2 separate regions of the Homo sapiens genome follow, and region 2 is linked to region 1. Evidence: fine-mapped expression QTL. A gene starts in region 1. The other region holds a variant in brackets. All regions are shown on one strand. Distances are between the middles of the regions.

Region 1 (2,915 bases):
AATTGTCATGAAGCATGAAAGGTCAAAATGCATTCTCAGTACTTTAAATGTAACTTTGAAGTCTTCCTTCAAAAATTGAGTAACTTCTTTTCCACATTTTGGTGCTTAAGATGTAACTCAGTTGCTTCCATTACTCAGAAAATTCCCTCATGGTGCATCCTCACTCTCTGCCCCACCAACCTGGCCAAAACAAGGAGCAAGAAATGGCATCCTGTACCATTTCTTTCAAAGTACCTCGACTACAAAATGGTTTTACCTACCGTATAGGATTAGTTTTGCTTATTAGTAACAATATTCGCCATGTGAACTTTCCCAGAATAGTTTTATATCAAATCCAACCTTCAACCCTTTAAACAGTAGGAAAACACGGCAGTTACAGTCGTTAACACCCTCTTCCCATAATACTCAAGCCTGTTAAACTTTCCTAACGAAAAGGGACGATGATGTGACACTCCAGCACCCCGCATCCACCTCCGCGGCGCAGCCGCTCTCTCCACCCCACAGGATGAACCCAAAGGCGCGCAGAGGCGCCCTCCCACGGCGCGTGACACCAGAGAAGGGGGATAAATTGGCGAGCTGGCATTCCTCCCGTCCTCACTGACGGACCCGCGAGCGGAGTGAGCGGTGACTCAGCCCGCTCCGGCTCGGCTCCGCCCTCCCGCCTCCCGCCCCGGCGTTCTCGCCCCGGCCTTGGCCTCTCCACTCCCTCCGCCCCGGTCCTGGCCCCCAGCCCTCCGCTGTCCTCCCCGGCTCCCTGACCCTCGAACCCCAGCCCTCCGCTCCCTCGTCCGGGCCCCACGTCCTCGGCCCGTCCCCCAGCCCTCTGCCCGGCCCTGCATCCTCGTTCCTCCAGCCCCGGAACGTATTAGGGCTGCACGCGCAGGGAGCAGCCCCCGGGACGGGTCTGCGGGCTTCGCGTCGCCCGGCCACTCTACCTTCGCTCCTGCCCAGGATCCTGCAGCACAGGTTCTGCAGCAGAACGTTCGGCGACTTCTGGTCCGGGGTCGCCATCCTCGCCCGGAGCCGTGCACGGTGGTCCGGGCAGAGCCGCCACTGCCGCCGCACGCGCAGGGACCGCGGCCCGCGCCCTTCCTGCGCCCCGCAAGCTCCCTGCTCCTGACAGGCTAAGGCGCGGGCGCCGCCGGCCACCAGGGCGCCATTTTAACGGAACCCGCCGAAAGCGCGGGCGCTTCCCACAATGCCCCGCTTCTTCCCTGCGCCGCGGCCGCGCGTGCGGCTGCCTAAGCGTTCCCGGCCCTGTCTGGTGCATTCCCCCTGCTGCTGCCCGGTCGGCCGAGAAAGTTCCGGGCGACAGGTGGCCCGAGGCCCTCGAGCTGCGCGGACAGAGCGGCCCCGGAGTCGCGAGCGTGACGGGCTTGCTTGGAGGGCACTTGGTGGCCGGTAGCACCATAAAGGCCATAATTTGGTGTGTGGGTGTGGGGGTGTGTGTGTTAACGGCATTGGTTTGATTCACACTTCTGATGAAAGAAGCCTGTTTAAAAAAGAAAAGAAAAAAGAAGCCTGTTTAAAGGGTGCAGGGTGTTACGATTGTTAACGTGCAGTGGGCAGTTCACCTGCTACGCTATCCAACAGGCGCCCTGCTCAGGCCCGACCTCGCACTGCCGCGCGGGCCGGTCCCCCCCGGCCCGGGTAACTGGGACGTCCTGGGAAAATAAATTAATCACGTACGGAGTGAGAGAACAGGAAACCTGCCGAGAAAAAGATCGATAAGCAGACAATTACACCAAGCCAACTTCAGTGCAATCGTTAAAGCTTACACATGGGTGCACGCTTGGGAGCCGTGAGCTACCATGTTAAAAGGCCAACTTCCTAAGGAAAAATGATGGAAAGAGATCCCGAGATCCTATGAAATGGAAGAGGGAGGACAACCCAGCTATCCCAACATCCCAGCTGAGGCCAGCCACACACGTGACTGTCTGCAAAGCCCGTCGGGCCTGGGTCCAGCTCAGGTTGCAGAATTGTTGGCAAGTAAAACGTTTGTTGTCGTTCTGACTCAAAAACATGGAGACAAAGCAGACTTGTAGGGTATTACAGTCAACAACTAGACCCTACAGCTAAAGGACTGTCTCCTTGCATGATGCAACAACCATCACAGCTCTGCAAGAGCAACCAAACCACCAAGGATGCGATCACCCCTCACTGCCTTCGATACGCATTCTGTGGAAACGCTTCTAAACTTGCATCACACTCAACACGATCAGTTAGTAACTGGCTTCTCATGAAGTTATTCTCTCAGCCGCATACTACAATGTCCAGATGTCATCTAAATCCTGCCACCCTCTCCCCCACCTTCAGCTGAAACGCTGCATGACTGCATCATCTTACCTGACCAGCTCTCTCCTAGGACAGACATGCAAGAACCCCCCTCACTAACGCTGATGTTATTTGGTTTACAGATGGCTCTTACTTAAAGATGCAGCTGGAAGGTATTACACTGGTTATGCCATAGCGTCTTTGCCCAAAGAAATAGAAAGTGCTTGTCTTCCAGGAGCAATCATCTCAACAAGCAAAGTTAATAGCATTAATTAGAGCCTGTCAGTTGGCAAAAGGAATAACTGCTAATCTTTATACCAATAGCAGGTATGCTTATAGAGTAGCTCATAACTTTGGAATGCTATGGAGACAAAGGATTTTTAACCTTTTCTAGTCAGCCCACAAAAAAATGGGTGCCTTGTTTCAGAATTATGGCAAGCCATACTATTGCCAAAATCATTAGCCATTATCAAGATTCCAGGCCATTCAAAGACACTCAAAAAAGCAAGATAAGCCAGTTAGCAGGTAGTATAGCAAACAGGGTGGCCATAAACATATCTGAACAAAAAGATCAAACCATTTTGGCCTTTAAGGAAGTTAGATTTTTATGTAAAATTAGCTCAATCTAAATCTCCAAAAAC
Region 2 (2,915 bases), 79 kb before region 1:
ACGTCTTCTACTTTTCACTGTTGCGCTATTTATGAAACCAGGAATTTTTTTCTCCGGCTTCAAATCAGTCTGAAAGTAGATACACAGTGATTAGTGATTAAATCACTAATTCTATTTCAGAATCTCTTGATTTTCTTGAGTGTACAATTTCTCTGATTAATGTTCTAGATTCTTTAATGTCACACTGGGAAATAAAAATGCTACTGAATGGCCACAAAACAAAACAAACCCATCTACCAAACAACACTGTCATGCAATGCTCAGTGTCAGCCTAAACTCCTGACATCCCACTCCAGCCCATCCCAGTGCTGCCTGGGGCCTTCCCCTTCTCTCCCTCACTCCCAGCCTCAGCATCCCGCAGCCCTGGCCCCACCAGGTTTGCATTGCTTCGCTGTCATGGCTTTGGCTCTGCCTGTATCCCTCGTGCCCCCTAGTCACTCCAAGCCCGCCTCTCCCTCCTAGCACACACTTAAAAGGCCAACCCGTATCCCCTCACTCTGAATCCATCTATTCCTCCTCTGTGATTTTCAGCCTCCCCCTCCTTCTCCATATCGGCATCTCAAACAGCCTTCCAACAAACAAAGCGTCTAACTTCGTTAGAAGTTTTGACTTTGATTTTGCCCAACTCTTCTGTAGTATATCTTTAAATTTTCAGATGCCATATGGCAGCCCAGAAGGGGCCTGTTAGTTGAAAAGGTATCGTGCACCACGACAGACAGGTCTACAGCCCCCACCCCAACCCCATCTTCCTCCTAGCCACGGCACCCTGTGAGACTGCAGTTCCCACGCACTGATGTCCCTTCCACATTCCACTCCACAACTTCAAGTATCATCCAGGCTGATGACATCTAAAATCTTTACCTCTAGTCTAGATCTATCTTAAGTTTAAGATCAGTCTGATTAATGGCCTCACAAGGTATCCTAAAAAATACTCAAATTAGCGTATTTGAATGGAATCACTATCCCCCCCAAAGAAGCTCTTCCTCCAGTGCTCCCTGGGTGGTAAAAGATGCCACCACCCACCAGGTCCTCAAGTCAGAGACCCAGGTGCCACTGAGACTCCAACCACCTCCTGGCCTCCGTACACGCATCACCTGGTCCTGCTGGCGCCACAGCCCAAGCCTCCCTCAAATCCATTCCCTTCCCTCCAGCCCCGCGGCTGCTGTAACCATAAAGGCCAACGTCACCGCACACGGATTATTACAACTGGCTGCCCTGCTAATCACCACGGTCGCGCCCCAGGTTCATTATTCTCAACTACCTGAATCCAGACCTTCAGGACGTGCTCGTGGCTGGGCTCTCCAGCCCCATGTTGCAGCACAGTCCCCCTCCACAGCTTAGCTGAACATGCTGCTCTCCTCCCCACTGACCCGAACAGCTCATCCTCACCTGTCAGGGGCCAGCCTGGACACCATCACCTCTGGAGCCTTCTGGAATCACCCACGTCTGTCAGATGCCTCATTTAAACATTCCCATGCCACTTGGATTTTCCCGTATCGAT[T/C]GACTGTAAGATCCTGTGTAAACATCTGTTCTGCCCTAATAGGCCATGAGCTGCTTGGCCACAGGGAGCTGGTTTGTCACCTTGTCACTGGGAGCCAGCAACAGGGAGCACTAAGTGGGCCCTCAATGATGATTTCCTGAAAGAATGCGTGATGTTGACACTGGACGTCAGAGCAGGCAGTCTGCATTCCTCCAGATCTTGAGTACTCAAACTCACACCTTTCAAAAGGTTTCTATAAGCAAGGTCAATTTAGCAACAATGTGAATATAGGTGTTCTTTCCTTTTACAGTCTTAAAGTACTACCAGCGAATACAGTTTTCCTTCTAGAAAAATCATCTTTTATTGTGTCTACAATGAGTACGGAGGACAGTATCTTCAATGGTCTTCTTTTGAGACAAAGCCCCTTGACAGTGAGAGACATATGGTTGCTGCTGAGGACGCTGCTACTGAAAAGAAACCTCGTAAAACCATCCACATGACAGAAGTCTGAAATCCCTACAATATCACAATTATTTTTCTTTCCCAAATGAGAAATTAAACACTACAGGCAATAGTATTTCTGAACTTCTAACTACTCTAAGGCTGTAATGACTATGAACTCAATTCACAAGGCACAATTAGTCCTTTAGTTCCTAAAAAATTCCATTTACACCTGCCAACATGCCTAGGATCTCTTTACCCAGCACTCTGAAAATATATTTTAGGCACATGTTTTAAATGTGTTTTTATGGCTGACCCACAAGTAACTATATAATTATAAGAATCCCAAAAGCAAAGCAACATTGGCAATAAGGTCCAATGAATACAGGATGCACATCTCCTGCAGGGCCGACGCCACACTGGACGGCCGATACACAAAACTGGGCAGCCACTATCTCCTCCCGCTTGGGCAGCAGCTAAGTGCCAGGCTCTTCTGTAATTCTCCACTGACCCCTAAAGGCTGTCGAAAGAACTTCAAGTTTGACTCAAACACCGGCTCTTAAGGACTTGTTCAGGCACCTTCCGCCAGAACCCCCTCACATGCGGAGATGCCCCTATAGATAGCATCGAGTACTGCTAAACATGATATTTGTTTTTTTTAGAAAAGACCTTAAAACAATTTGTTCACAATTTCAAAATCACCTCCTCAACCCGTATTTATGTATTTAAAAGTGACCTTACTGTATTTAAAAGTGACCTTATCAAAGTACCCATCTGATCTATTTTTCTCAAGACTAAGGATCCAGATGACATTTGTTAAGACCTAGGATTGTTTTCAAAGTCTCTAACCACCTTTGAGGATCTCATCCTTACATCATCGGCATTCCTGCTCTCCCAGGCAAGTAATCACGGCAACAGTGAACTTGGGGGCACTCACCACAGGCAGGTGCTGTTCCAAGTACTTTCACTCAGACTTAATCCTGCAACACTAGGA

What was found. PIP is the estimated chance that this variant, and not a neighbour inherited with it, causes the effect.
Region 2: its variant is the best candidate, but not a certain one, in a credible set for the expression of TUBGCP3 in whole blood (GTEx, PIP 0.55).

Annotation. Positions count from the first base shown.
Region 1 is chr13:112,586,970-112,589,884 of GRCh38, forward strand. TUBGCP3 (tubulin gamma complex component 3) reads right to left here and starts at 1,184. Exons shown (of 22, transcript NM_006322.6): 1 at 936-1,184. The coding sequence starts at 1,011. It overlaps LOC124903251 (a long non-coding RNA gene), which reads left to right and starts at 1,217. Exons shown (of 2, transcript XR_007063945.1): 1 at 1,217-2,447. RefSeq lists silencers at 655-774, 805-864, 895-1,114 and an enhancer at 1,180-1,999.
Region 2 is chr13:112,507,755-112,510,669 of GRCh38, forward strand. The region is part of intron 17 of TUBGCP3 (tubulin gamma complex component 3); the gene reads right to left. Among named protein-coding and RNA genes, the nearest start is that of TUBGCP3, 79 kb to the right of the region's middle. RefSeq lists an enhancer at 1-784. The variant T/C (reference allele first, on the strand shown) is at 1,502.